4 linked regions of the Homo sapiens genome follow. The protein of the gene in region 3 interacts with the protein of the main gene of each other region in a biochemical or structural test. Each region holds a gene or a part of one and is shown on either strand. Other genes may lie near its edges. The genes, in order: CSNK2A2, TOPORS, TOP1 and NKX3-1.

Region 1 (8,404 bases), on a different chromosome or scaffold from region 3:
AGCTATTCTGGGTTATTTATACTTGCTTAGGGCTTTTCTGGTTTGCTGTTGATCTAGTCAGTTTGAATACACTCAAAACCCAGCCATTATTTCACCCTAAAATGCTGATTTTAGTTTTTTCTCAGCTAGTTTTTTGGGGGGACAGAGAAGTTTTTAAATCTAAAATATCTGCAAAGGTTAAATGAAGACTAGAAATTCAGATCATTTCTAGGAGCCAGGAAGTTAAAAAAAATTTTTTTTAAATAAATTATCTATGGCCATACCACCCTGAACACGCCCAATCTCGTCTAAAAAAGAAATTTATATCAGAAAAATGGATTTCTAATACCCTTGGCTAATGCGTTGTCCTTATTGCCTCAGATGTATGATTATAGCTTGGACATGTGGAGTTTGGGCTGTATGTTAGCAAGCATGATCTTTCGAAGGGAACCATTCTTCCATGGACAGGACAACTATGACCAGGTGAGCAAATGCTTTCTGGTTCTTATTTATTTGGGGGTGAATGCCAAAAAAATAGCATCCTTAGATAAGAATACTATCCTTGAGCCACTAAGTATCACTCAGTGTCTGCATATGAGCTTTTCTTCAAGATAAAGATCGCACAGAATTTTGTGTTTACCAGGTCCGCAGAAGTAGAGGCAGATAATGCCATCTATGCCAAACTTCCAAAGTGAATCTGTGAAGAAGTCAGGCACCTCCTTGTCTAATAAAACTAGATTTTAGTCATTAGATTGTGATGCCCTGTACTGGTCCACCTCTAGAAGATTATTATCGTAAGTTGTATTATTTTAAAGGCCGTTTGGAAATTTGCATTCATGTGAACTTCTTGTCCTTGGGTCTGTCTGCCTGCCCTGGACCTGGGTTTGTATCTCGTTCCTAGAGGTTTAGTGGTGTGGAAGTCTTCTGATTCCTTGGTGCAGTGTCCTCACGGGCTCATGGTGTGTTCTGTGCTCAGTGATTTGGTCAGTTTGTTTTGTGTTTCAGCTTGTTCGCATTGCCAAGGTTCTGGGTACAGAAGAACTGTATGGGTATCTGAAGAAGTATCACATAGACCTAGATCCACACTTCAACGATATCCTGGGACAGTAAGTAAGAGAGAGAGAGAGAGTGCTTTACCTTACCCCGTTTCAGAAGTGGAAAGGTTAGCCAAAATCACTTTCTTTTCCCATTCTGATTATAGTAAAATGGAAGTAGCCCTCTTTTTTCCTATGCATATTTTCTTTTAACTTATTGAGATATTTGGACTTTATGTCTTTTAATCATTTTACTTCTCTGAGAGATAACCTATTAATAGAAAAGGTAAAACAAAAATCATAATGTTATAGAAAAAAGTTTTCTGGTACAGCAAAAGCTTATTTTTAATGGCCAAACTTGGAGAGCAATGATTCTTTGAATAAGAGACTTAGTTTGTTTTTTATTATATTTTATTTTATTTACTTCATATCTCTTCAAGGTGGACTTACAATTTCTTCTTGTTCTCTGTAATGGATTTTCTATACAATAGCAAATTTTAAAGCACATTGAGTTTTCAGGTACATTGCAATAATGTTGAGAAGTAAACATTTTGTTAACAGTTTTCAAACAGTATTTTATGGAACCTCCCTGTTTCTGAGGCTAGCCCTGGGAAATATATCTGCTGACCAATAAAAATTGCCCACTCTTCTGCATGCCACCCAGAATTGACTAAAAGTCTACAGCATAAAAAATAATCTAGAAAGGTTCCACATATTCTAAATGAGATATAGAAGTTTTACCTAGTTGTATTTTTCTAATCACAGAGCACCATTGTGTTTCAGGATGCTATGCTGTAACTATGGGGCCGTAGGGCAGGCACCAGTTAGAGATTTAACAAGCTTGTAATCAGTACATTATTCTGAGATTTTGTTGGCTTTAGCCCTAGTAGATAAGGATTCTTGTTGAATTTAGTCTCTGGTTACTAATGCTTCATTTTTCTTCTCAGACATTCACGGAAACGCTGGGAAAACTTTATCCATAGTGAGAACAGACACCTTGTCAGCCCTGAGGCCCTAGATCTTCTGGACAAACTTCTGCGATACGACCATCAACAGAGACTGACTGCCAAAGAGGCCATGGAGCACCCATACTTCTGTGAGTCTCCAGGGACTGTGTTCAGGGAGTAATTCAGTCAAGAGAACAAATCTTCCACTCTTTGTCTTTGAGACCAGTCAGGAGAATTCTAGGGTATTTGGATTGGATTATTCCTAGAATTTGGCCTCATTTATCGTAGATGATTGAGACAACTTTGCAGATCCGTTTCTTGATCACCAAAGGTGTTTGCTTATTCACTGAATGTATCTCCCCGGAGTTCAAGCTGTTTGACTACTCCCTGTTACCCTGAGTTAATAGATCGCAAGTTTCTAAAATTTCTTTTTAAACATACATATATTTGTGTGGAAACCTAATTGAAGATTATTTCTCCCCTCAGAAAACTAGTAATTAGTTAAAAGTAGTAAGATAACTATTGTATGTTTTGAAAGAAGGAGATGAACAGATGGATGGACGAAAGGAATTTGAGGAAAGGGAAGTAAGTGTGGAGAGGCCTCACTGAAATCTTGACTGAACTGCTCACTTAGAAGTGTGTGTGGATTCACTTTGCGTGTTTGCTTATTCTTCTGCATGTGTATGGTTCTTTCCTCTGATAACGTGTGTTTCAAATAAACTTCCTCCTATTATCAGTCTCCTTCCTGGGGAGCAGGGAGGTTGAGAGACTTACCTCAGTCGCTTTCTGAATCAAGAGGGAAACGTTCACCCCTTAAAGTCGTTGTCTCTGGCTTAACAAACATGCTGTCTTTCCCTCTCCTTTGATTTCCTCTGGAGATGAACTAAATTCTTGCCTGAAGAATGTGTCGCTGTAGTCTTGAGCCTGTGGCCCATATGCATAAGGGAGACCGCAAATGGAAAAGCCTTCAGCCTTCTAGACCTCAGCCCCAGGAAACTCAGATGTCCCCGCCCCAGTGTCTGGCACAGAAAGCTGTTTTTACCCGAGTTAGATCAAATTAGGAATACTGATGTTTATGACATGTCATTAATGATCTTTCTGCTTTTCTGAATATATGTCATACTTCAATTTAAAAAATTTCAAACTACGGTTGCTTAAAATGGATAGGTCTTCTGATGGCTCTTTTTACTCACCTTTCCTTTGAAGTGCTTGTTATTCTACATGCTTTGAAGAAATTAGGGGTTAGAGATGATATTAATATTGAAAGAAAATAAATGTAGAAATTTGAACAGTGGGAAATTAGAGTTTCTATGCCTCTTAGCATTGAGTCTGTACTCCGAGGAAGGGTAAGAGTTGACTGCAATAACAATTTCCCTGATCATTTTTCAGTGTTTGGTTTTTATATGGCTGGAATTCCGTGATTTCCGTCTCTCCTGTTGCCCCCCTGACCCTGGCTTGCCCATCAGTCTGTCTCTCTTTCCGTTGAAAGGGTGGGTTTGCCATGGGCTTCTCTCAGCACTCACCACCCTGATTGCCTGACTTTCCTCCTGCTTTCTTGCAGACCCTGTGGTGAAGGAGCAGTCCCAGCCTTGTGCAGACAATGCTGTGCTTTCCAGTGGTCTCACGGCAGCACGATGAAGACTGGAAAGCGACGGGTAATGCGGCATTGATGCTTGCCAATAAAACCAACCAACCAAACACAAACCTTGAAGGAAAACTACAGTGTGATAAAAAGAAATTCTTATCATTCCTTCTAAATGCACAGAAGAGTAAAGACCTAAAAGTCTGTCAAAAAGCAAGAAAGAAACTCCCCAGTGCTAGTCTCCAGGGAGCTGTCACTGTGGCAGCATGGGGATGCACCTAGTTCAGGATCTGAAGGAGCTCTGCCTTTGGAATGCATGGGAGATAGAGACTCGGAGTTGTTGTACATTTACCTTTGTTTAACAGGGCACCACTGTTGAATTAACCCATTCAGTCAACAAGCTCTGAATGTCTGACTTCCTATCTATTCCATTGTGGTCTGGGTTTCCTTTGGTGAAATTCAGGCTCAAGTCTTAGCGAAATGTCAGCAGTCTATACTGACACACCAGCCTCATTTACAAAAAGGAGATATTAAAACAGTGACAGTATTTTTTTTTTAAGCTCTTTACAAATCCACGTTTTATGTATTTTTTAATGACATGAGCTCTCCAGGAAATGTACCTCATCCCCGCAGTTTTCCTCCAAGTGGATTCATTTGGGAGCAAACTGCAGTCACTTTCACAAGAGTCCTCTTTGATGTCAGGAGGGATCACGAAACCTTGCAATGCCATGAACTGGTCCATGGTTATCATCAAAAGTTCCATGCTAAGTGCATAACTTGGAGCTCACTATAACCTTTGTTGATTTCCCTAACCATAAAATCTTGTTGCTATTTTTTTGTTGCTTTTTCTTTTTTTTTTTTTTTTTTTTTTTTGGCAGCCTTGTAAGGAGAACTTCACCATTTCCCAGCACATCCCTATGTGTGCGCCTATTTTAATGCACCTCTCTGAAACAGAGACCTTTTTGTTCACAACCATAACTAAAGCTGGAAAGTCAGTCTTCAGGCAAGGCGAGGGAGGAAAACATCCCATTAGAATTTTTTCAGGAAAGACTTATGGAAAAAAATATCTCTCTCCCACCTCCTTTTATCCCCATGAGACACAGTTTCCCACTGTAATCAGGGTAATATGCATTTGTAAGTTCTGATATGTGATACATTTATGTGATGGCAAAGATAAGTCTGTCTTGCATGCAGGTACTAGAGTTGTGTGGGCAGGGTCATCTGAAACTCAAGCAACTCAGAGGAATATACAAGGGGCTTGGGGAAGAAAATGGTGCTCCCGGAGCAAGTGTTGGATCCATTTTGCAAACCTTCATGTTAGCAGAGAAAGCTAGAGTTTGTTTAAACAAAAATAGGGCTGATTTCATTTTGGGGACTCAGGAGCAACATGGTTTGTAGGCAGTCCCCTCACCCCAGCTGCAGGGCCATGCCACAGCTGTGGGGACTTCACACACCTAGGCTAGAACTAGAGGTGTCTACCACATCACCCTTTAAGATTTCTTTATTAACTATTTAATAATGCCATACATTTTTATAAGGTTAGATGTTTGTTTGAAACATTTGTTTACATTCCATATTCCAATAAAATCTTATTGGTATTGGTAGCAGATCCTACTCTAAATGTAGATTCTATTTTTGTCGTTTGGTCTGTGGGAACTTAAAATACAAATGAAACTCTTCTCTTATTATAGAGTTGAGTTTATAGAGTAAAAAATAAATAAGATCCCAAAGCCAAGGAATGCATTCAGTTAAGGTTCTCATACCAATGCTGCCTGCTTGCATTGCACATTCTGTATACTAATGTAAACATTTGTTCTACCTGAAAATCAAAAGCAAGATGTGAGCTCTTTGGCTAAACCTGTATTGATATGTCAGGCAGCAAAACTCAGTGTTTGAGATTATCAAAAGCCTTCTAATATGCCCTTATAGGCAATCCTGAAGCATTGGTTATCATCAGGGAGATGTGCCACTGCGTGTCTTTCCTGCTCCCCCTCCAATCTCCTTTATCACCCCACCCCACTCCTCAGCCCTCCCTTTTTTTTTTTAAGTTGCCTGTCTGGACCAGGCAAGAGGTGCCTACTGGAGGGTCTTGGTGAAGCGGTAACTCCATTCCTTTCCCTTGGGTCCCCCAAAGGTAATAAAAGTACCTGGAGGAGAATAGTCAGGTGATTGACCTCTGCCTGTCTCTCTGACGGTGATGTAGGTGCAGACACCGCCTGCCTGCCTTGTCCTGGGGTTTTGTAACTGCAGCTTTGACACAGGCATTCTTCCTTTGAAGCACACAGCTTGCTTTTCCAGCACCTAGACTTTTACCTCTCTTCATGCCTTAGACTTAGACCATAACTGGGCTTGAAATGCTCACCCCTTCCTGGGTCTGGTCTTGGCACCTAGGCTATTCCTTTCCAAACTGAAGTGAGTCCAGTTTCAGACCATCTCTTTTCCTGTCTCCAAAAACCATTTTTGTTTCCAAACCTAGCTCCCCCGAAATTTTAAGACTATTTACCTAGATTCGGAGATGGTCTTGGAGAGTTCCAAAAGGGGTGTGTGTGTGTCTGTGTGTGTGTCTGTGTGTGTGTCTGTGTGTGTGTCTGTGTGTGTGTCTGTGTGTCTAATATTTAGACTAAACCATGGTAAATGTACGCACCCAGTATCCTTTTCAGTTAGCATATTCTTTCTTAAACTCATCTCAGTACTTTTCATTTGTTTGCTTCATTATCTTAAACAGGTTAAAAGTGCCTATGATAAGGACTTAATTATTTCCTAAAGAAAAGCAAAAAATGTGGGGAACAGGGTAGTGTTATACTATCATCTCAGGTACTGCCTATGTTCAAGAACATAGACCTGGTATGGTGAGAACAAAAGGTTCCTATGCCAAATCCAGATGGCTATATCATTTGTTGGCTACAAGTGAGCCTGACTGCAAGGTTTGCTTCTGCTGAGAAATCCCATGGTGAGAGTAGAACTCATGAAGTGCTGAGTCACATTTGCACCTCTGGTGTGGTGGCAGTTCACTCTCCCCTGGATGCTGTCAGCTGGCCTTGCTTTCATCCTATCCCTGTAGGCAGGGTAGGTGGCTGGGTAGGAGAAGCTATTGAGTGTATGACGCAGACCAAGCTTTCCTGGGCCTTCTCACCAACTAGAGAAGCGCTGATGTCGTTCATTGAGGCACTTAAACACCAGTCACTCAGCCAGGCCTCCTCCCAGACATTCTGTAACATGTCAGCACTCACAAGGTTTAAAGCAAATGTGTTCCCTTGCAGAGAGGAAGGTGCTCTCAGACTGATAGATTAGAGGAGACAGACAAACTCGTAATCCTTGGGGACTTGAAGAGAGTGGCTAGGGGAAGGGCTGTTAAAAGAAAAGGGACCAATAAGAAAATCCATCTAAAGGTAGCTCTTGAGGAGGAAATTAACTTCTTGAGGGGATAAATTAGAGGGTACCAAGTTTATGTTCTGGAATGTACCCTGGGGAGGGCGCTGCCCACTGGATTGGTCCCAGTGGACTGAAAGGTGGTGCTCTCGAGTCAGGCGCTTAGTCCCAGAGAGAGCTGGGTGCCGCGGGGCTCGTGGTCTGTGCCTACTCAGGGAAATGACTTAGGTTCTCCCAGGTGCTCTGTTGATAAGGATGGAAGCAGAACTACTTTGAGACACAAGCAACAATTGGAAGAGTTTTTTTATATGAACTGAAATAGATCTAAGAGAGCCTGGTTAACAGTTTCCTTTAATACCAGTTCAGATTAAATGGTTACTTTAGGAACCTGTGTTACTGTGTGAGCACCCACAGAAACAAGCAAACTTATTTCCTACAAAAAATGAGGGGATAATAACCGATCAGAGTCACAGTCGTTTCAATATAAACCCTTCCGAAAGCAAAAGCAGGGACCACATGAGCACACAAGAAGCCAAAGTTTGTCAGTGATCTTAATAAATTAAGACTGAGTAACATCCTGCCTTTAGAAAAAAATAACCCCGAGGTGGAGACCAGGGCAGGGGAGGTGGCGGAGAAGCATCGGGCCAGATCAACCGTTAATAACATGCTTCTGAGCTATGTGGATGTATAAATGAAAACACCCCCAACTAGGTATTGTAGAGGCTGGAAAAAGATGTGATGGGATTATACAGGTGATGCATATTTTTGTTTTGAGACTCAACAATGTGCTACAAATGTGATACTTAACCCTGAACTGCATGTATTGGGGATTGTTTTTTAAAAAGAAAAAAAACAACTTTGAATCAATAAATTAACAGTTTTTCACTTGCTGGCTCTTCTTGCTGTAAATGGTGACTAAGAGGTTGGGACAGAAATCTTGACAACTAGTGGAAAACTTGGATAATCTTCAAGGACCATGGAGCCTTCTGTTTCCTTCTGTTTGCAGAAAAGCAACACTGCCTGGGTTGTGATCCTTTACAAGTGACTACTTCAGACACAATTGGCCACCTCTTTGTATCACTGGATGACTGATGTATGATTTATGTGCTGCTGCCCTTAGAGGGAAGAAAAATGCCATGTTAAATCCTGTTTTCTTAAATAAAAATGTTGACAATAACCAGCCTTCCCAAGTGGGAGACAAACCATTGCTATGAGGACCTTAACTTGTATTTCCTGTCTCTTTGGGGGAGAGGGGAGGGATAAACCTTGAATTGCAAAGATGTGTGTTACACCTTGATGTGAAAACTTTCCTTTGGCAGAAGTGGGGCTAGAGTGGTGTCCTGTTGGGAGTGTTCCGTTTTTATGTACTTGCTTCTGAGTCGCGCCACTCAGACACCTGCCTCTTGGGATTGACTGTTTTAGTGCATGACTTTAACCTTGTGGCCTGGTGCTCTGCATTTGTGAAACACTCTCCCTAGCCCCATTCCTTGCAG
Region 2 (3,947 bases), on a different chromosome or scaffold from region 3:
TACTGTCCTTAGAATAACGGATTCTAAACATGGCCTACCAAGACTGTTCCCACCCTGTCCTTTGTCTAATCCTGCTTTTAGTTCTTGGAATATGCTAGGCTCTTCATCTGCCTTTGGATCCTTTGCCAACAGCAATTCCTCCCCCGTTAATGCTGGCTTGCTTTCTGGATTCAACTATTACGTCCAATCATGATTAGATCCCCATTCACTTGTAAGGGAATTATACTTTCTCCTCAGAGAATGTATGATAGTTTATAATGTTATACTTACATAAATATTTGTCTTAACAGTCCATAAGCACCATCAAGGCAGGGAGCATAACTGCTTTGCTCTATTGATAAAACAGAACCGCCAGGTGCAGTGGCTCATGCCTGTAATCCCAGCACTTTGGGAGGCTGAGGCGGGCGGATCACGGTCAGGGGTTTGAGACCAGTCTGGCCAACATAGTGAAACCCCGCCTCTACTAAAAACACAAAAATTAACCGGACATGGTGGCGCGTGCCTGTAGTCCCAGCTACTCCGGAGGCTGAGGCAGGAGAATCGCTTGAACCCGGGAGGCAGAGGTTGTGGTGAAGTGAGATTGCACCACTGAACTCCAGCCTAGGCAACAGAGCCAGACTCCAACTCAAAAAAAAAAACAACAACAACAACAAAAAAAAAAACCCCAAAACTTAGTGCAGAACCTGCCACATAGTAGGCACTGCAATTTCTACTGAATAAAGAATGAATACAGTAGCAAGGCAAAGGCAAACTGAAGGCTGAATTAAGATTTAACTCAAGCTCCACTGTTCAGTGGCAATCCTACATCAGCATAGATGTAATTTTATCATCCCTAAAACAAGATAAAACATAACCACTTTATATGAAAGAACTACCAATGTAAAAGAAGTATGACAAGGGTTTTTCATGTTTATTTAGCAAGTTAAATGCTGTTTTTACTGATGATAGAAAGCAAATAAGATACTCCTCAAAATCAAAGAAAATAATTAAAACTATAAAGTATTTGTTCACCTGAAGTTCAGTATTTATGACATAATTATGCCCTTAGCTACTTTCAAGATTTTAACTTTACTAAAATAAACTTTAAAAAAAAATACTGCATAGGAAAATGTCTGATTCTTGTTTTAAAGTGTTACTGTTTTATTTTTTTTCTTTTGTTGAATACACATTTGTTTTACTGGCAGTCCAGATAAACAAGTATATAAAGGAAATAGTAAATTTTTATTTTGGCAGAAGATAAACTGTGCAGATTAAAATGCCTCAATTTAACCTGAAGAAATGGTTTTGAATCATATAAATTTTTAAGAAGAAAAATAAAGACTGTCCAAAGGGATTCTCCTAGCTTATAACACATTTCCAGAATAACTCTCAAAAAAAAAAAATTCAAAAATACTCATTGACTACCTTAAAAATATGTCAATACCGTATGGCTTTATGAAATAACTTCTAAAATTTATATAATTTTTCTTATTTAAAAAGGACCCCAAGTTTTAAATAAGCTGCTAGCAGTATCATTTTCTTCACTTAAAAGTGCATATCTTTGAGGGTGGGACATACATTTTGAACAAATAATGATTTTTACAAATTAACACCAAAAAAAAAATCATTTAAAATATTGTAAGGAGGAAGAGAGTTTTCACCAAATGTCATCTTTAAATAGACTGCAGTAGACGACATTCTTCCTTTTTCCTTTTTATAACATCATAATTCTCAATGAAATGCTTTGGCAGTTTTAAGACATATCACAGTCTCTACCAAGACATACTGACATTAATGATGTCCGTGGCGATGGCAATTGCCTTGATGGCTCAGTTTGAAGAGACACAATGTTACTGGGCTGGTTCTCCAAATCAGAAACAAAGGTGCTCTCTTCTCTTACATCGAGAGTTTGTTCAACTGAAGCTGCCAGAGGTGGAATATTATCTACAGTTTTGTTGGCATTATTCAAGTTGTTACTAAGTGTGGCAATATCACATTCCTTGTCCAGCACACCAAATTCAGCTTCTATTGTAACTACATCTTTAGTTTCAAATGGTTCCAAGGAAGGAGCCAAAAACTCATTTTGTAGAGGGTCTTGAGGACCACTATTGTCACATTCTGTATCCTCCTTTACTTCAGAATCCTTATCACTGTCACTGTCAATGGTAATTACAACTGGGGAACGTGAAGCATTATCTCCATGGTGTTTCTTATGCTTCTTCTTATGTTTCTTCTTTTTCTTTTTATGGTGTTTAGTTGTATCAGTAGCTTTTCCTTCATAAACTATCTCTACACTTAGGCTCCGGGTCTTCCTTTTTCTCCTTTTGTGTTTTGTCTCTCTGTCTGATGATCGGCTGTCTGAAAAGGTATCACTCTCATTTTTGTAGTTTCCATCCAATTTTGATGAAGATTTTTGGTAATGACTGTCCTTTGCTTTAGAAGCAAATTCACGAGATGGCTGAGCCACTTCGTTAGTACCCTCCAAATGCCGTGTTTTGTATTTTCGTTTCCCTCCAGGCTTTTCATTTCTCACCCGGTCAGTCCCGGTAGATGCAGTCCTTGATCTGTTACTAGACAGGCTCCTTGATCTGTGCCTTTCATAGTAGTAATACTTCCTCTCACTGTGATTATTTTTTTTCCTAGCATTTGTTCTTTCAGAAAAGGACTGAACTCTAAATTCTGGACTTGAAGACTGTCTAGAATAATGAGCTCTGGACAGAGTCCTCCTCCTGTAAGATGATTCGTACCCATCCCTGTCCTTGTTTCTACTGTAATAAGTATACTCCCATTTGTATCTGCTTCCATAATTATTTCTTAAATAATAACGATCTCTATTTCTGCTCCGTGATCTTCTTTTACCATGATCACTGCTACGAGACCTTGATCTGCTTGTGCTTTCACTACTTAGAGACAGAGTTTGGCTTCTTCTGGACCAACTGCTATCTCTAGTTCTTGATCTCTTTTTGTCTCTTCTCCCTCTAGGTCTGCTACTTTCCCTGCTTCTGGATCGTTTACTTTTCATTCTTTTCTTCCCATGATGCTTTCTATGATTCTTCTGATCATGCCCACTTCTACTCTGAGAACGTGAATCTGAACTTCTTGATCTTCCCCTCTTTCTGTGTCTATGGTTATATGGAGAATATACTCTGTCTCCTCTTACAGATGAGTTCAGGTTTCTGGGAGATGACAATGATGTAGATCGTTTCTCTTCCTTCTTTGATTTGATTCTTGTACTAGAATCACAATGACCTTTATTTATTTGTTCATCCTTTCCAAGGACAGAGTGTGGAGATGAGCATCTACTAACATCGCTATCACCAGAACTGTAAGATTGCTCCTGTTCTTGTGTCTTCACTGTCTCCATTTTCTCATAAGAACCTAAGTCCTCAGAATCAGAGGACAGTTCAACAAGTTCTGGGGTCCTCTCAGCTAGTGGTTTAACAAACCCAACAATGACACAATTATCTGAAGAATCATCACTGTCATTATTTAGGTCGTCATTGGTTTGTACTCCTTGTATCTGAGACGTGGCTCCTCCTGTGACAAGTTCTTCATCTGAACTGTCAGAAGTATTTAAAAGAGAAGACATAGTAACGTGTACCTGCTCTGAGCTTGAGTAAGATGGTCCTGGAGTTTCATCATCCCATGGTGCCTGACTAACAGTGGCTACATTAATATCCAGCTCTTGGGTCTCAGCCTCATCTGGAGATATTGTTATGACTGAAGAATCAGAATGGCTGCCTTCTTCGTATGAAGGAGCAGGGCAATCATAATTGGCATGCTGGTCAAAGGCTGCCATGTTAAAAGGAGATCGGGCAAAACTGATAAATTCATGTATAAAATGCTCAGTTCGATTAAGTAAAAATGGTCTTAAATCAGACACAAATGCCTGACTCTCCAAGTCATAGCGAGTAACATTACTCATGATAATATGCTGGACAATATTCACTAAAGATCCATGAGCTCCA
Region 3 (9,010 bases):
CAGCAGTTGAGTATGGGTCAGAATGTTCTAAATTACATGCAAAGAGCTACAATTTTAAATATTGCGAAGAATGAGCTCCAAAGTGGGGGGACGGGGGGGAATCTTTTATATCTTAGGGGATGAGGGCAGGCAAAATGAGAGACGTTTGATTTTAATATATGAACTTGTACAGTTAATCTGTAAGATGGGTTAGGCCCTCTTAAAATCACGCTTAAACAATCTCTTAATACAAAGTTCAATAATGACATGTCTGGGCATAATTAAACATTGATTTCTACTTTTTTTAAAGTTTTTTTCATAGTTACATAAATCAATCACTGGTTAACAATGTATTACTTGAGATAGCAAGCATAGTTACCAACACCACATCTTCCAGACAATATTCACAAAGAATAATTACACCAATGTCAGAACTTTATGGTGGCAGATTCTCTTCAAAAAGCATGTTTAGATAAAAAGCAAATGACAAATTATCAAATCCTTCCTTCTCTCCTTTTTCAGCTCTGTAAGAAAATAGAGATTTGTGGCTTTTTATTTTTTCATGCTAGTATCATATAGTATCACTCTAGCATAGTGGCTCAGCTCATGGGATTTAGAGTGGCCAACTCACAGCCCTTGGGCAAGCTAGTAAATACACTGAAGCCTCAGTTTCCTCATCTACAAAACAGAAATAACAGGACCTAACTCACAAGGGTCCTTCCAAGGATTACATTTAATTAGATGATCCATGGAAAGAGCTGAGATTCATGCCTGGCAGTAAGTATTCAATAAATATTAGCTATTATTGCTATTAAATGTGAGCCAACACATTCTAAAAGTCAACATACGCAGATTACTTCAGCCTCTATAAAAATGTCAGTAAAGATCAATAACCTAGCCAGCTCACAATCATTCACGTGACTTAGGTGAGAACCATGTAAGTTAACTTTCTCACAAGAAAGGGCTAAACTTTGTTTCATTACTTACATTACCTACTCAGCCCAGCCTGACAGCCAAAAGAACACATTCCATATTAAAGATCCCACCTTCCTCTAGCAAGGTCAAAAGGACTTCTTACATCCTCACCTGCACATCCTTTCTTTGCTCCTGTATCCCAAAGAAACATGTCTATACTGTGGCTTTCTAAACTGCAGGCCTCACCTCCTCCCTCTTTTAAAATCGTGATAGGTTGGTTAAACGTACTTAAGAAACACTCCAACCCCTGACAATTCTCTGCGCCCAGTCTTCCACAACCCCCAGCTCAGAAGTCACCTCCTCTGAGAAATTTCCCCACCCTCAGACAAAATTAACTCCCCTATACTTCAAAGCATTTTGGGTACACATATGCCCCAGTAGTTACCTTATAATTAACTAATTATGTCTCCCCCAATAGACTGAATTGAGAGCAAGGGAGTGTTATGGTTACAGGATCAGCTCTAGCACCAAGCACAGTGGTTGGCACATATCTGGTGCTCAAGAAATGCCATACTTTAAACCAGATTCTCTCCTGGCTGAGTACCATCTCCTGCTGGATGCCCCACTTCAAACTCTGAACATAAGGTTGCTCTCAGTAGAGCAGGCTAACATGATGGACTGCTGATTACAACATTAGAAAACCTACTCATCAACTTCTCCCATTGGAGAGGTTCCCGGAACCCAAACTCAATTGAGCAGGATTATGTACCATCAAAATCAGTGGGAATTCCCAGCACACTACAGAAGGTAACTTCTCCTTCAACAGGGTTGTTCGAAAGCCTGCAAGGATGAGCTTTTTATTGGAGGACTCTTCCCTGGGTAACTGAAGTGGAAATACAGTAAGAATAAATGCCTTGATTTGGCTGAAAAGGGTTCAAAAACATAAAGAATTGGGAAAAAAAAAAAAAGCCAGTTCTTGATTCCTGAAAAACAGTGGCTCGTGAAAAAGAATGAACAGGAAGCAGGGGTGGGTACTGGACACTCTTTGCTTCAATAAATAAAATCTTTTTTTCCTCCTTACAACCCAAACGAAAAGGCCAACACACCAGGTCCACAAGAGATGCTCAACAATCTTTCCTTCCAACAAGTACACTAAACTGCGTTTCCAGAAAAACACTGCATTGGGAACCTCGACCACAATGAAAAGTTCCAGTGACTAACATAATTTTTTAAAAATCCAACATTTACATTGGGTGACCCACAGAGAACTTGCAAACTTTCTTTAGGGAGGTACTGCTACCTTTGCAAAGAACGTAACTTGGGAAAAACAACCTGGAAATATAAAGAACTCCACAAAGCGTGGCTTTAGTTTTAGAGCCATAATTCCTATCATAAACAGCCTATCAAAAAAAAAATTAACAGTTGCTTAAGGAAATCTTTCATTCTGGAAGCAGAAAAGGAAACAAACATGAAGCATAAAGGGAATAACCCCCAAAATAAAGTTTAAAAAATAATAATTCAGTCCCCCAGCCTTCCCTCTCTGGTGAAGTATGTGATTTATACGGCTTTGCTCTGCAGAAAGCTCATTCTGGGCAGCTCAAGGAAAGAGCCGAGGGAGGGAGAGAAAGAGACACAGGCACAGAAAGGAGAGGAGAGAGAAAAAGAAAATGGCGCAGAGACTAAGTCCCGACCGTCGACAAGGCGACTTTCCCGGGAGGAATCCCGGCCCGGAAAGACCGCCCGAGGCCCGGTGGCGGACGACACGGGGTCTCCGTTGTCCCCTCTTGGGAGGGCCGGGATCTGGAGGAGCTGGGGTCCCCGGAAAGGGGGTCAAGAGGCGGCCCGATGGGAACAATGGGGCCGGTGAGCGAGGAGCCGGGACTTAGTCTCTGGGACGCCATGTCTGTCCTCTGCCCGGCACCGGCAGGGCGCGGGGGAGGCGGCCGGCGGCTGGGGGGCCCCGGAGTCGGCGCAGGGGGCACACTCACCATTCAATCGGAAATCCGCTTCGATCTGGAAAAAGAAAAGGAGAGAATATCAAACAACAGCCACTTTAACCCCTCCGGCGGCGAGCGCGCGCGGCCGGGGTCTGGCTCACCCTGCGCCCCCGGGGAGGACGGGGACCCGGGGGTGGCCACAGAGGGCAGCCATCCCTGCCTCGAACTGTAACTTCGCGGCCCTCGCTCGCGGCCTAGCGAGCCGATCTACTCCGGCAGGCGGCCCCTCACCGGGGGCTCCGGCCTGTCAAAGCTGCCGGGCCGGGGCTGGGGTCGGGGCCTGCGCCGGGGGTCGCGGGACGGCCAGGCCGGGGTCCGGGGCCGCCAGGGTCAGGCCGGGCCGTACCTGGGAATCGTTGTGGAGGTGGTCCCCACTCATGTCGGCCCGGAGGGACGAGCGCGGCGGCAGGCGAGGCGGCGTGGGGGAGACGCAGACGGCGAACCGGCCTGTGCGGGCGGACGGGGACTCCGGAGGCTCGAGGAGGCGCAGGTAAGCGGCGGTGACTGTGGGCCCGAGACTCCAGAAACGGCTGAGGCTGCTACCACGGCGGCGACGCTGCCTGACTGCCGGGCGGGCGGCGAGAACAGACCCCAGCAGTTGTGTAACAGCCTAAGTTCGCATTTGGGCTCACTGCGCCTGCGCGGCCGCTTTTAAACAACACGTCGGCGACGTCAGCGCTCGCGGAAAGAGGCAGAGGGTTGCGGCCCGCCCCCTCGCTGTTCGCCAGACGGACCTGTCTTTGCATCGCAAGCCCCGCCTCCGGACCGTGCGCGCTCCGCTGTGATTTGCATAAGGAGCCGACTCCTCCCACGGCGTCCCACCCCAAGCAGCCTCCCCTTCCTCTCCAGACGCTTTTTCTCGGAACCCCAGCCCCTCTGCTAGGCAGTGCGCAGGCGCCACCCGGGCACCGCCTCCGGACCAGGGCTGGCCGCGCAGCCACGTGGTGGGCCTTTAAAGGCCGCGGCGGGACCCAGCAATCTTGGGCAGAGCTGGTATCCGGCGTCCGCATCTCCTTGGAGCGGCGAGTACCTTGGCAGCTGGGACCCCAGAGGTCTCCCCAGCGCCTCCTTTCTTGCTAAGCCGACCCTGAGGCCGCCTGGTGGGAGGAGTCCCCTCCCCAGCCTTTGTCCAGGCCCTCCAACTTCTGGATTATTTCACGCCCACTTTTTAAAAATTATTTTAATTTTTCAACCAACCAAGGGTCCGGTTTAACCCCAGTTTTCCGCCGAGTACATGTAGCCCTGGGTCACCAAGGGTCTGATTTCTTTGGTTCATTCTACAAATACTTATTGAGCATCCGCTATGAGCCCAGGAATTGTGCTGAGGGAAGGGGGAATGCAAGAGACCAAAGGGAACTGAACCTGTCTCTATCCGCCCCTGTATCCCTGGCATGCTGGGAGGACGGGGCAAATGGGGAATAGAACTACCGTTTATAGAGCATCTATTCTGTGCCCAGCTCTGAATTCTCACAATAGCTCTGTGAGGTCGCCTGTATTACAAAAGTCAAACTGTCCTAAAGACAAGGGACCAACAGCCAGCTACCTTGCATCTATAGTTGGATACCTCTCAAGCTTCTCTGGGAATGAACTGAACTCCACTCAGCTAGAAAAAGCCCCATCCTGACACCTTCCTTTCCCTCATTTCCCACTAGTCCCGCTGATTGCATCTCTTTGCTTCATCTACTTCTCTCTGCTGCCCATAAGCCTTTGAAGTCTGCGTTCTCCTGCTTGGATTAATACAATGTGCTGGCTGGGGGTGGTGTCTCACACTTGTAATCTTAGCACTTTGGGAGGCCGAGGCTGGCAGATCACTTGAACCCAGGAGTTCAAGACCAGCCTGGGCAACATGGCAGAACCCTGACTCTACAAAAAAATACAAAAACTGGCGGGGTGTGGTGGCATGTGCCTGTAGTCCCGGCTACTCGGGAGGCTGAGGTGGGAGGATCACCTGAGCCCGAGGAGGAGGTCGAGGCTGCACTGCACTCCAGCCTGGGCAACAGAGTGAGACCTGGTTTAAAAAAAACAAAAAACAAACCAACAAAAAACACCGCACTCCAAAACACTACACTTCTAACAGGGATTGCTGCTTCCATTCTTGGCCCTCTCGTAAACTGCATTCCAACAATTGCCAAAGTGATCTTCTCAATATGCTAATCTAACCATTACTCCTTTGTGGATATTGCCACATCTATTACCACTTTCACTATTATTATTTCATATTTTAATTGATCTCCTTTTTATTTACCTTCATCCTAAGTGTTATCTGTGAAATAATATCTATGAAATCATTTGGAAGTAAATATGAAAACTGTTCATCCAGTGGACCATCAGTATCTTTATCACATCTAATGTTTACCATCACATGTTTACCATTAGATGTGTTTACCACATCTTGTGAATGCTTCAAGATCAACCTAAATATCACTTTTTCAAAGTGACTCTCCGGCGCACTACTGACCCTGCTTCCACTGGCTGACCAAGGGTGCCTTATAGGCCAGGCGCGGTGGCTAACGCCTGTAATCACAGCACTTTGGGAGGTCAATGTGGATCAATCACTTGAGGTCAGGAGTTCAACAACAGCCTGGCCAACATGGTGAAACCCTGTCTCTACTAAAAATACAAAAATTAGCAGAGTGTGGTGGTTCACACCTGTAATCCCAGCTACTCGGGAGGCTGAGGCAGGAGAATCGCTTGAACCTGGGAGGCAGAGGTTGCAGTGAGCCGAGACCGCACCACTGTACCCCAGCCTGGGCAACAGAGCGAGTGAGTCTCAAAAAATAAATAAACAAATAAAAATAAAAGGTGCCTTATAGTATCTATCTCCTTTGTAACACTTATGACACTTGTTATTAAGTTACAAATGTAGTAATTGGTTTCCTGTCTATTTCCCCTATAGCAAGCAAGGTCTGTGAGAGGGGGGAATCTTGTCCATCTTGCCTACCACTGAATTCCCAGCACCCAGCAACAGGCCCTCCTACAGAAGAGGTGCTCAAGAAATGGGCAAATCAAAGCAGGTTACCCTGCTTTGGTTAGGAGCACACATTTGGAAGTCAAATCAACTTAGGTTTGAATTCTGCTCTGCTGTTTGTTACCTGTGTGATATCAGGCAAGTTGTTTAACTTCTCTGAGTCCCTGTTTCCTCATCCACTCCATGGTGATCATTGTGGGTATGTAATGACTATCAAAAAATAATGGTTTGAGGGCAGGCACCTAGTAAGTGCTGAGTCTTGGATTCATACTCAGGTCGGCCTGACTCCAAAGCTATACTCTTTCTCTGAAGCAAGCTGCCAGAGCCAGTTTTGCCTTGCTGTTGGTGTCTCTTCTCATACTCTTCCCATCTCAGGATCAATCCCTGGCCAGAAGATGAGGCATCTGCTTGCTGCAGTGAGTCCAAGATAATTTGAGGACGGCCTTCAGGAATAACAATGCATCCACACTACTCCACTCTCCCAACCCCCCGTTTCCCAGGGAGAATCTGCATTTGCTTTTTTTTCTTTTTTTTTTTTTTTTTGAGATGGAGTCTCTGTCACCCAGGCTGGAGTGCAGTGGTGCCATCTGGGCTTACTGCAACCTCCGCCTCCTGGGTTCAAGCAATTATCCTGCCTCAGCCTCCCGGGTAGCTGGGATTACAGCCACGTACCACCACACCCAGCTAATTTTTGCAATTTTAGTAGAGACAAGGTTTCACTATGTTGGTCAGGCTGGTCTCAAACTCCTGACCTCGTGATCTGCCCACCTTTGCCTCCCAAAGTGCTGGGATTACAGGCATGAGCCACTGTACCCAGCCTGCATTTGCTTTCCAGGCCCCTCCAAAGAAGACTAGGTAGGCATGAAAACAGCACAGACTTCACAATGGCAGACCGAGGACATCCCCGTGCACAGACATGGAAATATCCGGGCAGTCTTGTCACAGGCTGAACTTCTCTGCCAGCATGTGTGGCTGGCAGTGCTCAGAGGTTGACTGACTTACTCTGTCTTACAGAGACCACTCCTGACTCCTAACACTTCAAACACATGTCCCCACCATATGGTACTTGAGGAGATTATTGATAGTGCATGGACAAGCATTTTAATTCTAATAGATATGTATTTCGATGTGTATGAGAAAAAATAACCATTGTTTTAAGGATATAACTGGGATGAGGCTTTTTAAAAAAGTGATTGATTTACATAAAAACATATAGGAATAGTGCACAGAGCGGACATATAAGACAAACTCCAGGAAGGCTATAGGCAAATAAATGAGGTTTGGGAAACACTGCTTTAAATCAAGACTGTTCACTCATGGACCATCCCAACCCTTATAAAAATAACTAGCAGGTGAAAACTGGTAGTGTAGGTCTGTCTCCAAAGTATGCATTGGGAACAGTGGACGGTTTATAGATAATCCACTAAAAGAAGAGCTCCACATACAAATACATACATTATTATATTTACAGTTAAACAGGTTTTTTCCCAGGTGCCTTCTCAGGGTCTTCCATATGTAAATACTTACGTGACTCTTGAAAAGAGGGACATGGTGTGCAGCATCTCCAAAATGTAGGCAAACCCGGCCAGGAGCGGTGGCTCATGCCTGTAGTGCCAGCACTTTGGGAGGCCGAGGGCGGGGGTGGATCACCTGAGGTCAGGAGTTCGAGACCAGCCTGGTCAACATGGTGAAAACTCGTCTCTACTAAAATTACAAAAATTAGGCCGGGCGCAGTGGCTCACGCCTGTAATCTTAGCACTTCGGGAGGCCAAGGCAGGCAGATCACCTGAGGTCAGGACTTTGAGACCTGCCTGGCCAACATGGTGAAACCCTGTCTCTACTAAAAATAGAAAAATTAGCTGAGCATGGTTGGCACACACCTGTAATCCCAGCTACTTGGGAGACTGAGGCAGGAGAACTGCTTGAATCCTGGAGGCAGAGGTTACAGTGAGCCAAGATGGCGCCACTGCACTCCAGCCTGGGTGACAGAGCGAGACTCCATCTTGGAAAAAAAAATGTAGGTAAATCCAAAAACACTTTTTTCCAGACTACCTCTTGAGACTTGGGCTTTTTGGGGGTGGTAGAGAGGGTGCACCATTCCTGGAGGTACTGCAATCCAGGCCAATGTGTAGAGTGGACAGAGCAAGCTCCTATTCCATCTCCTTGCTCCAAAAATCTATTTATTATATTATCCTCAGATAGAGGATGTATCAGATATTAAACTGGTAAGAACAGATACTGCACATGATCTTAGCCAGAAGGCCAAGAAGCAATGAGACTTGAGCTTTTTGAAATGACTGAACCTCAAGACTCTTGATCTAGGTTGTCACCCAAGATCTAGTTCTTATTCATCTGATTCCGACTCTCTTAGGCTAGTTATCAACCTGGCCCAACTCTTGTCTCCCAGAACTGAACACCTCTAGCGTTGTCTAAACAACTCTTGCTTTTCAGGGACCCATCCATCTGCACACTTTCCCCGGACTGCAAGATTATGGAGGAACAAGATACACAAATACACAGATGTGCTGCTACAGTTGTTTGGACCAGGATGGGCACTTGATCCAAGCTGAGCCACTCAGGTTAACTTCCTTAAGGTTCTAGAATTCAGAAGAAAAGAGTGGTTCCATCTGTCTTCTTGTGGATAGATCTGTAGTATGTAGATTAGGGAGCTGCTCCTGGCGATACTTGCTGTTGGAAGGGCCAGAGAAACCTGGAAGTGGGGGAGGATATAGGAGAAAGTGGGTGGAGGAAGAGAAGAGATAAGAGATAGAAGTCCCTCCCGCCAGATGGCTCACACCTGTAAGCCTAACACTTTGGGAGCCTGAGGCGGCTGGATCATTTGAGCCTAGGAGTTTGAAGTCAGCCTATGCAACATGGCAAAATGCTGTCTCTACAAACAAAAATTAGCTGGGCATAGTGGTGTGTGCCTGCAGTCTCAGCTACTAGGGAGGCTGAGGTGAGGAACACCTGAGAGGCTGAGGCAGCAATGAGCCAAGATCGTGCCACTGCACTCCAGCCTGGGTGACAGAGTGTCACCTTGTCTTAAAAAAGAGAGAGAGAGGACCCTGATGAATGAAGTTCAGGACCCTCGTTCCTACTTTCTCCTGAAGCCTGGTTGCATGGTTCCTGTTCTGGCACCTTTAAATTGATT
Region 4 (8,870 bases), on a different chromosome or scaffold from region 3:
GGTAGCAGTGGAGGCAGGTGGGGTGGGTGGAAGGATGGAGGGTGATGCAGTGGAGACATCCACGGGCCTAGAGGTTTAGGGACTCAACTTTGTTATAGTTCTTGTCATCTCTGTAAACTTAAGGCTCCTTCCTAGAAAAGCAAGACATTTTCTTAGATAATCCTGAGGTCCCTCCTAGCTCTTAGATGGTTTCTAAAACATGTAATAGAGCAATGTTAAAATGTTTATGTGTAATATGAATTTGGGAGGAAAAAAGGATACAAAATTATATTTATCTTACCATTGAAGATGGCCAAAGACCGGAAGAAAATACAGACACACACACAGACACACACACACACACACACACACACACACACACACACACAAACAGTTTTAATGAAGGGATGGGATCATGGGTCTAAAGAGATATTTATAACTTAAAAGGAAAAAAGGATCCAAAGTTCACATCTGCAGTCAAGTTCAAGCTGGTAGGGCCTCCTTCATCACTGCTGCTCTTTTACTAGTGCCCCTATATTAGTTTCTTAGTGCTGCTGTGGCAAATTACCATAAAGTTAGTGGCTTAAAACAATGCACATTTATTATGCTATGGTTCTGGAGATCAGAAGCCCACACTGGCTTATTGGGCTAATATCAAGGTGTCATCAGGGTTGTGTTCCTTCTGGTGGCTCTAGGAGAGAATCCACTTCTTTTCTTTCCCTGCTGCCTGCATCAGTTGGCTCCTGGCCTCCTTGCACCCTCAAAGCCAGCAAGGGCCAGTTGAGTCTTTCCCACAGTTGACTCTTTCTAGCCTTGCTTCAGTTGTCATATCTTGTCTGACTCTGATTCTCTGGCCTCATACTTGTACTGATAAAGACCCCTGTGACACAACAGGCCCATTTGGATAATCCAGAATAACCTTCCCATCTCAGGATCAGCGGACCAGCAAACCTAATTCCATCTGCAGCATTAACTTTCGCTGTCTATTTACATAGCATATTCACAGAATCTGGGGACTAGGGGTTGGTCATCGCTGGAAGGGGGCATTGTTCTGGGCTGCAGCCCCTGAGTGTCTCCAGATTGCCTTGCACATTTTCACCCGGTTTAAACTGCATAAACACAGCAAGGGGAGGAGGACGAGCCTTCCACTGTGATTTGCCTGGGGGTCCTTTGGCCCCTTATGGATAATTCCGCTAGCCAGTGAGATGTGTCATAACAACTGGAGCTGGACATTGAGCCAGCAAGCACTTATGGAGCGCCTTCTGTATGCCGAGAACTAAGCCAGACTTTAGAGATGGTACAAATATGAGGAGGATACAGTCCCTTCTCAGGGAGCTCATAGTCTCATAAAGAAGATGAGCCATCCACACCCCCAAATACAAAGCACAAGGGGAGAAAAGATGCAGTGAGGTGAGGCCGAGGACCACGAGCTGTGGCCCCACTCACAGGCCTGAGGAGGACGCGGTGGAGGAGGGCAGTCCAGGCTCAGCTCCAACTTGATATTTTTCATTTTTTAAAATTATCAATGAGTACAAGGAAATACACCCTGTTCCACTATCCTCCTGTCCCTCTCCCAACCTACTGTCTCCATCTCACTGAGCAGAGGTAACTACTCTATGGAAAAAAAGAATACATATGTATAAATCTTGTTCCTGATATATTCTGTATGTTAAAGTGTTCAAATGAAAAACATTATATAGGTAACTTATAGTGCTGTTTTATACAATGGGTTTCATCTATAACATGCTTTGCAGCTTGAACCAGTCTCTGACCAAATTGAAGATATGTTCCCAAGTCAATACATTGTGTATTTGTGCACTTCTAGGGCACATTGCCAAACACAGAATAGCTGTGTCAAAGGATATGCTCAGTTTTAATTTTGACAAATATTCCCAAGTTGTCATCCAAAAACAGTCATGCATCCTTAGGGACAAGAATATGTTCTGAGAGATGCAATGTTAGGCAATTTCATTGCTGTGCAAACATCATAGAGCTACTTACACAAACTTAGATGGATGTAGTCTACTACACACCTAGGCTACATGGTATGCCCTATTGCTCCTAGGCTACAGACATGTACAGCATGTTACTGTACTGAATACTGTAAGCAAAGGTAATACAATGGTAAGAATTTGTGCATGTAAACATATCTAAACATAAAAAGGTACAGTAAAAATACAGTATCATAACCTTATGGAACCACCGTCATATATGCTGTCTGTCACTGATCAAACGTCACGATGCAGTGCATGGCTGTATGAGAGCAGCTGTTCCTCCACACTCTCACTTACACTGGACATTATCCATTTTTTTTAACCTTTGTCAATCTGAAAGGTGGAAAAGGCTCGTCTCAATGTGATTTTGATTTGCATTCCTTCACTGATGAAGTGTAGTTAAAATATTTTTTTCACGTGCTCGTTTGTGTTTTACATCTTTGAGCTGTCTGGAATTTATTTTGTCATAAGAATAGGACTTTATCTTTTCCAAATGGCAGCACTTGTTATTAAATAATTCATACCCAACTCTCAATTTTAGAAATAAAAGGAGGCCATCTCAATCTAAACCTCACACTATATACAAAAATTAATTCTGAAGGAATCATGGATTGAAGAGTAAAGCATAAAACTTTTAGAAGATAACATAGGAGCAAATCTTCAGTATTAGGACTAAACAAAGAGTTCTTAGGCAGGACATCAAAATCACATTCTGTAAAATTCAAAAATTCATAAATTGATCTTCAATGAAATTAAAATCTTTTGTTCTGTTGAAGATCCTGTTAGAGGGATGGAAACACAAGCTACAGACTGGGAGATAATATTTGCAAATAACCTACCAAACAAAGACTTACAAACAGCAATATATAAAGAACTATCATAACTCAATGGTTAAAAAATAAAAGAAAGAAAAATTCAATTATAATATGAGCAAAAGGCTTGAACAGATATTTCACCAAAGAGGAAATATGGATGGCAAACAAGCACATGACAAGGTATTCAACATCTCTAGGCATTTGTGAAATGCAAATTAAAAATTTAAACCACAATAAGGCCCAGCACAGTGGCTCACACCTGTAGTCTCAGCACTTTGGGTGGTGGAGGCGGAAGGATTGTTTGAGCCCAGGGCTTTGAGACCAGCCTGGGCAACAGGGTGAAACCTTATCTTTACAAAAACTACAAAAATTAACTGGGCAGGGTGGCACACACCTGTAGTCCCAGCTATTCAGGAGGCTGAGGTGGGAGAATCTCCTGAGCCCAGGAGGTTGAAGTTGCAGTGAGCCATGATCTCTCCACTGCACTCCAGCCTGGGCAACAGAGCAAGACCCTATCTCTAAATAAATAAATAAATGACGTCTGTAGTCTAGTTAACTGTAATGTCCCAACGTAAATTTCCTGTTTTCTACATTGTCCTACAGTTGTATAGATGTCTTTGGAGGACACTGGAGGTATTATTTTTGCAACTTCCTGTGAATCTACAATGATTCAAAAGAAAACATTAAAGAATGTTCTAATATAAAGAGACTTTGAAAAGATGAGAGAAGAAAACCAGCTTTGCCAAAGTCTTTCCCGTTGCACAGGTAGTTTTCTTTGGCGGTCGCTTTATCAGCAATAACCTATTAACTTTCCTTCCTCCAGAGACACATGACATACCATCCTTTTGAAAAGTTGCCAGTTGAATAGAAGCCGTCTTAGACCAGGACAGACAAAAAAGTTGCATTAAAAAAATGGTTCTAAAAAACATCAGCCTACCCTTTTTCCAGATTACCAACTGTTACCATTTAACCCATCGGCTTTATGGCGTGGGATCTATCAATCTGCATCCTTGTTTCAGAACCATTTGATGTAAGTTTCATAAATCTTGTGCCTTTGCTCCTACTTACTTCAGTGTTTATTTCCTAAAAATATTCTCTTGTACACTGACAGTACAATGTGCAATTTCAGTAAATTTAACATTAATTCAATACTTCCATCATCGACCTGACACTGAGACTCATGCCTGTAGTCCTGGCACTTTGAGAGGCCAAGGCAGGAGGATCACTTGAATCCAGGAAATCGAGGCTGCAGTGAGTTATGATGGCATCACTGCACTCCAGCCTGGGCGGCAGAGGGAGACCCTGTCCGTAAAAAAAAGAAGAGAAAAGACAAGGAAAGAAAATACTTCCATCATCTCTGTTCCACTTTCGTCTGTTGTCACGGTACCGTCCAGTCCAGTCACAGTACCGGTTGGACCAATCTGGCTAACCCATTGTTTAGCCAATGGGTTACATGTTAACAGTTGGTAATCTGCAAAAAGAGTATGCTGATGTTCTTTTGAACTACTTTTTTAAATGCAGTTTTTGCATTTGTCCTGGCCTAAAACGCCTTCCATCCGTCTGGAAACTTTTCAAAAGGATGGTATGTCATGTGTCTGGGGAGGAAGGAAAGTTAACAGGTTATTGCGGATAAAGGAACCACCAAAGAAAACCACTTCTGCAACGGGAAAAGGCTTTGGCAAAGGTGTTTTCCTTCTTTCAGCCTGGGGTCTGGCTGCACCTACTTGTCATGCCTCTTTGAGGTCGTAGATATTGCAGATCTGAGTTTGCACCATCTCTCCCAGAGAGAGAGAGCACCCAGAACTCTCACGGTACCGCGCGGCTGCAGTGACTGCGTGCTCATCCCCTGTAATTGGCTCTGACGGTCCTGAAGAGCTAACTGGACTGTTTGTCTTGATCGTCCCATCCCCAGGAGCTTCTCTCTGTTGCGGGTGGGTTGGGGCAGAGGAGCCCCGCTTTGGGGTGCGCTCCTGGCCTGGGAAAACGGCTCAGGGCGGAGGGAGGAGAGCTGGAGAAGGAGAGGAAATTGGGGAAGGAGAGGGAATTGGGGAAGGAGAGGGAACTGGGGAAGGAATCCCCTAGGGAGGAGCGGAGCGGGGCAGTGCTCAGGGCTCGCAGATCGGCGGGGTCACCTGGGGCTCAGGGCGGCCAATCCGCGGCGCGGCCCGTCCCGCGGCCAATGGGAGGGCGGCGCGGCCCGCTCCCCTGGGCTATAAGCGAGCCGGGAGGCGGAAAGTGAAAGCGGTGCGGGCCGGGCGGGTGCATTCAGGCCAAGGCGGGGCCGCCGGGATGCTCAGGGTTCCGGAGCCGCGGCCCGGGGAGGCGAAAGCGGAGGGGGCCGCGCCGCCGACCCCGTCCAAGCCGCTCACGTCCTTCCTCATCCAGGACATCCTGCGGGACGGCGCGCAGCGGCAAGGCGGCCGCACGAGCAGCCAGAGACAGCGCGACCCGGAGCCGGAGCCAGAGCCAGAGCCAGAGGGAGGACGCAGCCGCGCCGGGGCGCAGAACGACCAGCTGAGCACCGGGCCCCGCGCCGCGCCGGAGGAGGCCGAGACGCTGGCAGAGACCGAGCCAGGTAAGCGGCGAGGCCGGGGAAGGGGGGCAGCCCAAGGCGGACCCCCAGAGCTCGGGGTGCAGGGACGCGGGGCTCCGCGGCGACAGGCAGAGGGACCTTCCCGCCTCCGCAGCCACGCGCGCGCCCCCGGAATGAACCCTGAGCCCCAGCGTCAGGGCGGCGCAGGATTCTGACACCGCAGGACTCGCCCGGCTCCGTGCCCTCCGCTCCCTGGGGCTCAGAAGCCGGCGCGACTGCAGCGCCACCGCCCTCCACCGTCCCAGGAGCGGATCCCGCCCCGCGCCACCCGCGATCGGCGCCAGCCCCCCGGTAGTTATGAGAACTAATAATAACTTATTAACAGTGACAAAGCAGGGGTTGACCAGCAAAGCCTCCGTGTGCTTCCCAATCCCGTGGGCAGTAAAGCGGTATATTCGGGGTTCCCTCCGGTGTCCAGGAGAGAGAGTCCACTTATTTTCTTTCCTGTCACTTCTGATGAGGCGACCGAACGCCTCGTTTAGCGAAGAGGGAATTAAAGCCCAGAATGAGCCTGCCTCTGCGTCTCCAGTGGCACAAGCCCTCTCTTGCCCACCTGGATCCTAACACCGGATGTCTTTTGGTCTGGCCTTCCCGGGTATCTTGTTCCACGGCATTTTCCCTGCCTCCCTCTCCCGCCTCTCCTCAGCACACAGATCCAGAATCCCCATATAATTCTACTAGACAGTAGGGAGAAAGTTCAACCACGAAACGTCTCTAACTTTGGGTTCTTGATGATTCTTAGCAAATGAATGCGTAATAAACATATTTACTCACTCTTCACTCCGGAGAGCTCCTTAGTCATGTGAAAAAAGTGAAATGTATCCACGATGACAGTGGGCTGTTTGTTCACTCACTAAAGAGATAAGGGTGGATTGAATTCTGTTCTCTTCCCTGCTAACATGTAACTTTTGTCTTCCCATCCCTCCTTCCCCACTCTCCTTTCCAGAAAGGCACTTGGGGTCTTATCTGTTGGACTCTGAAAACACTTCAGGCGCCCTTCCAAGGCTTCCCCAAACCCCTAAGCAGCCGCAGAAGCGCTCCCGAGCTGCCTTCTCCCACACTCAGGTGATCGAGTTGGAGAGGAAGTTCAGCCATCAGAAGTACCTGTCGGCCCCTGAACGGGCCCACCTGGCCAAGAACCTCAAGCTCACGGAGACCCAAGTGAAGATATGGTTCCAGAACAGACGCTATAAGACTAAGCGAAAGCAGCTCTCCTCGGAGCTGGGAGACTTGGAGAAGCACTCCTCTTTGCCGGCCCTGAAAGAGGAGGCCTTCTCCCGGGCCTCCCTGGTCTCCGTGTATAACAGCTATCCTTACTACCCATACCTGTACTGCGTGGGCAGCTGGAGCCCAGCTTTTTGGTAATGCCAGCTCAGGTGACAACCATTATGATCAAAAACTGCCTTCCCCAGGGTGTCTCTATGAAAAGCACAAGGGGCCAAGGTCAGGGAGCAAGAGGTGTGCACACCAAAGCTATTGGAGATTTGCGTGGAAATCTCAGATTCTTCACTGGTGAGACAATGAAACAACAGAGACAGTGAAAGTTTTAATACCTAAGTCATTCCTCCAGTGCATACTGTAGGTCATTTTTTTTGCTTCTGGCTACCTGTTTGAAGGGGAGAGAGGGAAAATCAAGTGGTATTTTCCAGCACTTTGTATGATTTTGGATGAGTTGTACACCCAAGGATTCTGTTCTGCAACTCCATCCTCCTGTGTCACTGAATATCAACTCTGAAAGAGCAAACCTAACAGGAGAAAGGACAACCAGGATGAGGATGTCACCAACTGAATTAAACTTAAGTCCAGAAGCCTCCTGTTGGCCTTGGAATATGGCCAAGGCTCTCTCTGTCCCTGTAAAAGAGAGGGGCAAATAGAGAGTCTCCAAGAGAACGCCCTCATGCTCAGCACATATTTGCATGGGAGGGGGAGATGGGTGGGAGGAGATGAAAATATCAGCTTTTCTTATTCCTTTTTATTCCTTTTAAAATGGTATGCCAACTTAAGTATTTACAGGGTGGCCCAAATAGAACAAGATGCACTCGCTGTGATTTTAAGACAAGCTGTATAAACAGAACTCCACTGCAAGAGGGGGGGCCGGGCCAGGAGAATCTCCGCTTGTCCAAGACAGGGGCCTAAGGAGGGTCTCCACACTGCTGCTAGGGGCTGTTGCATTTTTTTATTAGTAGAAAGTGGAAAGGCCTCTTCTCAACTTTTTTCCCTTGGGCTGGAGAATTTAGAATCAGAAGTTTCCTGGAGTTTTCAGGCTATCATATATACTGTATCCTGAAAGGCAACATAATTCTTCCTTCCCTCCTTTTAAAATTTTGTGTTCCTTTTTGCAGCAATTACTCACTAAAGGGCTTCATTTTAGTCCAGATTTTTAGTCTGGCTGCACCTAACTTATGCCTCGCTTATTTAGCCCGAGATCTGGTCTTTTTTTTTTTTTTTTTTTTTTTTTTTCCGTCTCCCCAAAGCTTTATCTGTCTTGACTTTTTAAAAAAGTTTGGGGGCAGATTCTGAATTGGCTAAAAGACATGCATTTTTAAAACTAGCAACTCTTATTTCTTTCCTTTAAAAATACATAGCATTAAATCCCAAATCCTATTTAAAGACCTGACAGCTTGAGAAGGTCACTACTGCATTTATAGGACCTTCTGGTGGTTCTGCTGTTACGTTTGAAGTCTGACAATCCTTGAGAATCTTTGCATGCAGAGGAGGTAAGAGGTATTGGATTTTCACAGAGGAAGAACACAGCGCAGAATGAAGGGCCAGGCTTACTGAGCTGTCCAGTGGAGGGCTCATGGGTGGGACATGGAAAAGAAGGCAGCCTAGGCCCTGGGGAGCCCAGTCCACTGAGCAAGCAAGGGACTGAGTGAGCCTTTTGCAGGAAAAGGCTAAGAAAAAGGAAAACCATTCTAAAACACAACAAGAAACTGTCCAAATGCTTTGGGAACTGTGTTTATTGCCTATAATGGGTCCCCAAAATGGGTAACCTAGACTTCAGAGAGAATGAGCAGAGAGCAAAGGAGAAATCTGGCTGTCCTTCCATTTTCATTCTGTTATCTCAGGTGAGCTGGTAGAGGGGAGACATTAGAAAAAAATGAAACAACAAAACAATTACTAATGAGGTACGCTGAGGCCTGGGAGTCTCTTGACTCCACTACTTAATTCCGTTTAGTGAGAAACCTTTCAATTTTCTTTTATTAGAAGGGCCAGCTTACTGTTGGTGGCAAAATTGCCAACATAAGTTAATAGAAAGTTGGCCAATTTCACCCCATTTTCTGTGGTTTGGGCTCCACATTGCAATGTTCAATGCCACGTGCTGCTGACACCGACCGGAGTACTAGCCAGCACAAAAGGCAGGGTAGCCTGAATTGCTTTCTGCTCTTTACATTTCTTTTAAAATAAGCATTTAGTGCTCAGTCCCTACTGAGTACTCTTTCTCTCCCCTCCTCTGAATTTAATTCTTTCAACTTGCAATTTGCAAGG

The links.
Region 1: of the proteins of TOP1 (region 3) and CSNK2A2, one has a biochemical effect on the other in vitro, tested with the Homo sapiens proteins (one study listed by BioGRID).
Region 2: of the proteins of TOP1 (region 3) and TOPORS, one has a biochemical effect on the other in vitro, tested with the Homo sapiens proteins (2 studies listed by BioGRID).
Region 4: the proteins of TOP1 (region 3) and NKX3-1 form a complex in vitro, tested with the Homo sapiens proteins (2 studies listed by BioGRID and IntAct).

Annotation. Positions count from the first base shown.
Region 1 is NC_000016.10:58,159,265-58,167,668, reverse strand, and holds part of CSNK2A2 (casein kinase II subunit alpha'), read left to right. Parts: intron 1-360; coding exon 361-462; intron 463-984; coding exon 985-1,085; intron 1,086-1,960; coding exon 1,961-2,109; intron 2,110-3,521; coding exon 3,522-3,598; 3' UTR 3,599-3,615; exon of another isoform or gene 3,616-8,404.
Region 2 is NC_000009.12:32,539,655-32,543,601, forward strand, and holds the end of TOPORS (E3 ubiquitin-protein ligase Topors), read right to left. Parts: coding exon 1,733-3,947; 3' UTR 890-1,732; downstream 1-889. UniProt on the Homo sapiens protein: Functions as an E3 ubiquitin-protein ligase and as an E3 SUMO1-protein ligase. Probable tumor suppressor involved in cell growth, cell proliferation and apoptosis that regulates p53/TP53 stability through ubiquitin-dependent degradation.
Region 3 is NC_000020.11:41,023,328-41,032,337, reverse strand, and holds the start of TOP1 (DNA topoisomerase 1), read right to left. Parts: upstream 3,517-9,010; 5' UTR 3,271-3,516; coding exon 3,238-3,270; intron 2,908-3,237; coding exon 2,883-2,907; intron 1-2,882. UniProt on the Homo sapiens protein: Releases the supercoiling and torsional tension of DNA introduced during the DNA replication and transcription by transiently cleaving and rejoining one strand of the DNA duplex.
Region 4 is NC_000008.11:23,679,097-23,687,966, reverse strand, and holds the start of NKX3-1 (homeobox protein Nkx-3.1), read left to right. Parts: upstream 1-5,028; 5' UTR 5,029-5,077; coding exon 5,078-5,363; intron 5,364-6,327; coding exon 6,328-6,746; 3' UTR 6,747-8,870.